Linked DNA regions of Homo sapiens. The protein of the gene in region 1 interacts with the protein of each later gene in a biochemical or structural test. Each region holds a gene or a part of one and is shown on either strand. Other genes may lie near its edges.

Evidence for each region.
Region 2: the proteins of WASF1 (region 1) and SORBS2 form a complex in vitro, tested with the Homo sapiens proteins (one study listed by BioGRID).

The regions. Positions count from the first base shown.
Region 1 is NC_000006.12:110,173,000-110,176,823, forward strand, and holds part of WASF1 (actin-binding protein WASF1), read right to left. Parts: intron 1-3,824.
Region 2 is NC_000004.12:185,585,119-185,588,942, forward strand, and holds the end of SORBS2 (sorbin and SH3 domain-containing protein 2), read right to left. Parts: intron 3,073-3,824; exon of another isoform or gene 2,807-3,072; intron 2,571-2,806; coding exon 2,509-2,570; 3' UTR 405-2,508; downstream 1-404. UniProt on the Homo sapiens protein: Adapter protein that plays a role in the assembling of signaling complexes, being a link between ABL kinases and actin cytoskeleton. Can form complex with ABL1 and CBL, thus promoting ubiquitination and degradation of ABL1.

The DNA.
Region 1 (3,824 bases):
ACCCTTTCACAATTCTCTGGCATAACCTGTAGCACATGCATGTTATAAAAATTTAGCAAATTTAACAAATTTAGCAAGATGTCCCTATTAAAACAACTAGAAAACAAACTTACTTTTGTAGCATAAGGTGAAAACATAACACACTTGACTTTTTTGGTAAAGGAATCAAACAAGTTATTCCATGCCCTGACACATAAGCTTTTCTTCTTTTCAAATAAGTTAGTCAATGTAACTTTATTGGAGTAGACCTGGCTAGGTTAGGAATAAAGAATGGCTACATGCTGGACTAACTACTATCAAGCACACCAAATTAAAAAAACAAAAAAACAAAAAAACTTTGCTGTCATCATCATCCAACAGATGTCATCACACCCAAAACCCACCTACTTAGAATTTCTTTAGGACCTTTAGTTTAAGAAATGGTACCTTTGCAGCATAAGGGAGTAGGAAAAAAATGGGACTTTGAAATCACACATATCTGTGCTCAAATTCCACCTCCATTTCTATTAGCCATGTGACCTTGAGCAAATTACTTGATCTATGAGAGGACTCAGTTTGCTGGTTGACAAGTACCACAAATACAATTCTAACAGTTTACGCAAAAAGGAGGACTTATGACAAAGGTAACTAGGATGTCTCTGGAACCCAATCTCAGGACCATGGACAAAGGAACTCAAATACAGTCAGGACTCTGTGCATCTGCTTCTTTGCACTCTTTGTTCTAGAAGCCCTGGCTTATCTAGCCCACAGGGCAAGAAACAAGGCCATTAACAGTTCCAGAGTTTTGTATCTCACAGCTTCAGCAACTGAAGAGAAAACAAATTATTCAACCTCTGGGCATGGAGGACCCAGGAAAAGTTCTGAGTGACTTGGCTTAGTAAAAAAGTGTCTAAAACCAGGCCAATAAACCACAGAAATGAACAGAATTGTGATTGGTATCTCTGGCCCCTTCCAAGCCAAAGTGATCTTTACAAAAGACAGATCTGATCCAGTAATTAACCCGATTAAAACTCTTCATGGCCTTCCCCAATAGACTTAAAATCCTTAACCTCGTTAAACCAAACCTCACGTAGGCCCTCTGCATAGTCTGGCTTCTGTTTACCTCTGCAACCTCATATCAAGTCACAATCCCTCTTACACTAAGCTTTAACTGTTTCACCTGTTCTTTGAATTCTCTTCCTTTTCCACCTAGCTAACTTCCACTAATCTTGCCTCTAAGAAGCCTCCCCTGACTCCCAGTGTAAATCCAGTTCCCTCTTCTTTTCCTTTACAGCATTCACCAAAATTTCTAAGTACAAATGTATTTGTTCAACACCTGTTTTTTACTATACTGTTAACTCCAAGAGAATAGAGACCTGTCCTTTTTAGCACCTACTTGGCCCTCAATAATTATGTGCTGATTATGAACTATGAATCACTGGTTTAACAAGGGGGACCCACTAAATGAACCAATTACAAATGAGGGGACAGTAGCAGGCAGGCAGAATTGTTATTATCAAGTTATTAAAATGACTGCTCCAACAGAAACTTATCAGTAAAAGGGGAGATAAAGCAGTTCTGAAACAATCTGGGCTTCCGCTAGGCAGAACAAACAACTTGTTCAATTCAGTTAACCTTTTTCTTCAATTAAATCCTTATAGGGCTATGATAGCAATTAAACAAGATAAATAATAAATGTGACAGCATCTATACAGAATCTTGTACATCTAGCAAGCAAGCAATGTCACTTCTTTTCCTTTTGGACCATGTTACACATTATTTTTGAATATCACTGATCTCCAAATAATTATTAAATACTCCAATGCATATGACAAAAATAGCTGTTTCATGACCTCTTCCCTCACAGCACCCTGATCTTTCCACATGGAACAGAATGACTTCTCTTTTATTCTGTAGTAATTGCATACACTCAAAATCCATTTAGCTTAAACCAAAAACAGGCACTGGGAACACAAAAATGAAGCAAAGCAAAACAAAACAACCAAACGCTTACAACAAAACTGTCCTCAAGGAGTTCACAGATTCACTTTCTCAATCTGCCTTCAGCTCCATCACATCCATACCAAAGCTCCATAGCACCCCAGGTAAGGCTGCTACAAATACAAGATGCCCCGTATTTTATGGGGCAATAATCCATCTTTATATCTTCATACTCCCACTTCATGACCTCATTCCAAAATTTTTTCCTTAAAAAAATTCTATGGAGACTGACTGGATATGATCTTTCTTCAAAGTATGAATAAAATCTACCCTGACTTTACCAATAGCTCAAAATAAGGAAACAAAGGAAACAATCCAAAAGAAAAATCCTGTTTCTTGACAGTGCTGGGAGTTTATTTTTAAAAATTAAAACAAACAAAAAACCCATCACAAAAATAACGCCTTTAAGAGACTAAAAAATCTTGCTTCTGAGAACAGGCACGTGTGAAAGGATCAAGACTACTTTCTTTTTCAGAGGTAGGTCCAGAAAGAAGAAATGTCCTCATAAGAGGGACGTAAGCGGTAACTTTAGGGAAAATGAACTCTCAGGAAAAAAAGGGGGTTACACCAAGCTTCGAAGTATCTTAGAATTTTATTTGTAGCTAAAACAGATCTCCGAAGTCATCTACTTCTACCTTTTCATTTTATAATCAAACATCTTGAGAAGTAAAGTCACGCAGAAGACTGCATTTCCTTCTAATTTTTGTCATGCCCTAACTTCTTGTCCCAGATAATGTAAGCCTATGCCACTCACTGAACTGAGAAACAGCCTCCTCTTCAAGTCCACTGGGTGAAAGAGAACAAGTTCCTAATAATGTTGTCATGTCTAACACAAGAGTTACAGATCCTAGCATTTCAGGGTACATCTGAAACTTATTTTTCCCATAGAAAGACTGTCATACAAATTATTATAGGTATTTTAATATACTTATGCTAATTATTAACATAATTTTATAATTTCTTTAGTATTAACATAATCCTATAATTCAGGTATTTTATTATTTAAATAGGCTTTAGTGGGCTGTCTGTGACTCTAACCACTAAGTATACTGTTTCTGAGAAAATAAGACTCAAGTTCCAAACCATTTTACAAGTTGTAAAATGTAATCAATTGTGTAGTAAGTTAGAACTACCAATTCACAAAGACTCAAAATTATAAGCTGAATGTGATAAACTTAAAACACAAGATTCTTAATTTTATAAAAAGTTCCACTTCAGGGGTCATTTATTTTTAACAACTAGGTACTCAAGCATTCAGCATAGGATTTAATTTACATATATCTTTTTTATTACTATTTCACTAGAAAACGTAAGTCACAAAGAATCAAACACACTTCTATCTAGTGTAGGAAAAACAAAAAATATGTTAACATACATCTTCATAAAGTGAGCTATAAGAAGAAAATTGTTAATATTTCATAAATCAAAGACTACTAACATATACATTATTAAGTATCTAGTGCCAGTTCAAAAGTGTACAGGTAATGGAATTATATCTGAGCAGGTAAATGGAGTTCAAAGAACCTTGAAATTCATTTTTCTCTTTTCTCCTGAGATAAAGTTATACATTTCATTAATTATAATGTTTGATAAATCTTTAAAAATGTTTCACTAAATATATTAATTCAATGGATATTCTTTACCCATTCATTTTATTTGTTCAACAAAGAAAATTGAGCCCCTGCTATTTGTTAAACACTATACTAACAACTTTGGATTTATGACAATAAGCTGCAGGTCAGTTTCTCTCCTCAAAGAACTAAGAAAAACCACGACTTTACTGCATTTACCCAAGTGACGGTGTCAGCTAAATTTTAATTCATTTAAGAAAACATTATAAAACA
Region 2 (3,824 bases), on another chromosome or scaffold:
TCATTTGAAATTCACTGAAAGCCTGTGGACATTTGCAGAAGCTGCCGAGCCAATGGTGCTGAAGCTGCTTAGGGCAAAGATTTTAAAATTTCAGAGTGTTGAACTGGGAAAGTGCTTACAACTCCTTGTAACTAACCCCTCCTTGGAAAACTAGCTGTTTTGAGGCAGAAATATTTTACAATGTATTGTTTTAACTGAAGGGCAATTTTTAGCCAAAGAACGTTTAGCAAATGAGCTTTGGTGGTGGGTTTAAAAATATTTCTTCTCTGAGCTGATGCTGACACAGCTTTTCTCCATGTTTGTGTTAAAAGAACACACAACAAAATGCATTTTCTCTTAGTTTAACAAGTTGGAATAAAATACACAATTTTTATAAAGATAAATGTCAAGAAGAAAAACTGAAGTATACTTCCAAGCAAAATTTATTAGATGTCTATTCAAGAAAAACACAATGACCTTTGCTTGTAAGAATTCAAAGTCAATTACCTGGAAGCCAGGTATGAATAGTTTTTTCTTTTAAAATCAGATACAGAGAGTAGAAACAGTAATTTTTCTTAAATATGACAGGCAACAGATATTGAAGTCTTTTCTCATAAATGGCATCAAAGAGAATTATTCATTTATCAGCAAAGCTGCATGCAGTTGACTTAATTTCAAACCTGAAGCCTTTAAAATATGAAGCTGGTTATGAACTTGACAGAAATCAAGGTAGGCTACTCAACGATGTTTCTTTACCTTCTTCCTAATGAAATTCCCTTGTCATCAGTCAGTAGATATGTACATTTCATTTGGCTTCTACGATCTTTTAACTTCATAGATTTTTGCATAAATGCTATCTGACAGAATCACACTATCTAGGGGTGCTTGTGATCTGTGAGATAAGGAGAGGCTAGTCTGCTGAAAGTGTTGTCGCAGGATAAAGACCAAATTAGGAAACGCCCCTGTTTTCTCAACAACTAGTCTGTACAAAAAAAGAGCAAACATATGTACAAAATTCTAGAGGCTACGTACATTGTGAAAAGATCAATATCACTGTCCATGAAAGAGATGCCATAAAAAGTTTTATCTGTAAGGTGCTCAAGATCCAAAGATGAACAGTTCTTATGCAAAGTCATAAGAAATACAAAGCTAGTTTTCGGAGCAGGTGTAATTCAGGCACTGTGAACCATATTAAACCTTCCAGGTCCCAATATCATTTTTTAAATTTCTGCTTCAGGGCAGAAAATAAAACCTGAATGATTTAACATTGCTTCTAAAAAGTGCCTAATTTATTCCTAGGAAATATTTTACACACACCAGGAAAATCAGGCTCAACATATTCCTGTCCTCAAATGTAGCCAGGATTCTGAGTTCCATAGAAGAAAAATAATTATTATAGTAAAAATAATTGTAGTAATCCTAATCCTTGCTAAAACCAACTTTAATACTTGTGATGCTTCTGTACTCTATTTCTATAAAATAATGTGTGAGATTCTATTACATTTCCATAAAATGTACAACATATCATATGGATTATATGTTCTCATACAATCTCAAATGTGTATGTGTACACACAGTGAAATCTTACCTACTAGTATTGCTTACAGATACTTTCAGGTGTCTGTTAGAATAATTCTTTGCACCTCTCACTAACACTGCTTTTACTTACATTTTTTCAGATAAATAAAACACTAAGAGCTCATTGTTCATGATGCTGATCATTACATTTTAATATAAAATAGCGATGCAACTTTACAACACAATAGTTTTCCCCTGTAGCCTAGCTCAGCCTCTTGTATTGTCATGATTATTACCGAAGGCTTTTATTTACTTACTGTTTGCACTTCTAAAAAATGCAAACAAATTGCAGAAAAAGACTCCTATTTGAAAACTCACATTCAATCAGCAAAATCACACTCATCCAAATTAACTCGCCTCCTCTTGCTTTAAAGGTTGTAATCACTGTGCATATTACAACATGTATGTGCAGGCAAACAATAGCTAAAGTACAGTTACAGTTGTCATATTGTGTAAACCAAGACACTAGGCAAACTTGTGAAAAGAATACACACTGCCAAGCGAAGAATATGAAAATGCAAACCACAGCATTCCCCAATAAACAATTTTCTGGTCGTCTTGGGGGAGAACATCGCCTGGGGGGAGATGTTGAAATGGAGCCACGAGGCTGGACAGCCTCCTGGAGACACTTTTTTTTTTTTTTTTTGCCTCAAATATTTGACCATTTTTAAATATCATGATTTTTTTCTTTCTGATCCCACATTTTGACGTGTCAAAGCTTAGAGCAGGAAGTAGGAATCCACACTTTCACGGAGGGGGACCAGCCTGCCATGTCGTCCCCAGGCTCACAGCAGCGGCGGCTACTCTGCTGGTGGTTTGGTGGCAGGTGGAGATGGTGACGGCGCATTGGAAACCGTAAGGCATGACAACGGGAGGCCCGCGGGGTGTTTCAGGCGCGTTGACGCAGGTGCATGGCTGGCAGGCGGCCTCTACAGAAGGAGGGAGCGCAATTCACAGCCTCTTGACGTAGTTTCCGGGGAAAGTACCAAAGAATTTGGTTCTTCTTGAGGTCCCTGAAAATAGAAGCGAGTCATGAAAGGGGGGTGACAACGATATCAGTTCATACACATGGGCTTGAATACTTCCCATTTACAAGGCCTCGGAAGACAGCAAGCCCCGAGGGGTTTGGAAAAGAAGGCAGGCAACTCACATGAAGCCCATAGGCAGACAAAATAAGCAGTGTTAGCTGGTTGCCTGACGCTCTCACTGCCCCTCCGGCATAAATGCTGCGCTGCCATCGCGGCAGGCTAAACAGAAATGCTGAGCCTCCCAAGCTAAAGGGAAAGTCAGCCCTGCTGAGGAGGGGGGCGGAGGAGCTCAGTCACTGAGGCTGCCACACCAGAGTCGGGGGTGAGGGATCAAGGCGAGGCTGACAGGTGACAGGGTGAGTGGAAAATCCTAAGAGCAAAGCTTCTCAGGGACCAGCAACCCGCGCAACACAGGTGCGACATGAAGACATCATCTGTGGCAGGCTGTCGCTGTTCCAACAGTTTTATCATCTTACAGAAGATCATGGTCAGTGCCACATCATTTATTTAAAAACAGCACTGCCAGAGTCCTTCATCGAGTATACAATTTTTCAACAATTTACAAATCATTAATGAAAAAAAGGATTAAGCACTATTTGTGTGTGGGAGTTCTATCAGTGGCATGATTTTTAACATGGTGTGTGTTTAACCACACGCACAAATGGCTATCATAATTATGTTCGCCTCTGGTTTCAAATAATGTAATTCCTTGGACACTTCTTGTAAAAGTTGGTGCACTAAATTGCTAAATTCTTCTTTAGGCAGCGCAGATGGACCGGATAAGGGTCTCTCAAGCTTCATCTGTCTCCTATATCCTGGCACTTACTGCCTTGGTTTGATGGCTGTTTTTCTTTTTCCTTGGCTAGGCAAGCCATTTTACGTTTCTCCTCCCTCCTCCTCCTCCCTCCTCCTCCTCCTCCTTGTTTTTGAGATGGAGTTTCGCTCTTGTCGCCCAGGCTGGAGTGCAGTGGCATGATCTCGGCTCACTGCAACCTCTGCCTCTTGGGTTCAAGCAATTCTCCTGCCTTAGCCTCCTGAGTGGCTGGGATTACAGGCACCTGCCACCAAGCCCAGCTGATTATTGTACTTTTGGTAGATACGGGGTTTCACCATGTTGACCAGGCTGGCCTCGAACTCCTGGCCTCAGGTAATCCACCCGCCTCGGCCTCCCAAAGTGCTAGAATTACAGGCATGAGCCACCGCACCCGGCCTTTTTTTCTTCTTTTAATGGAAATAAAA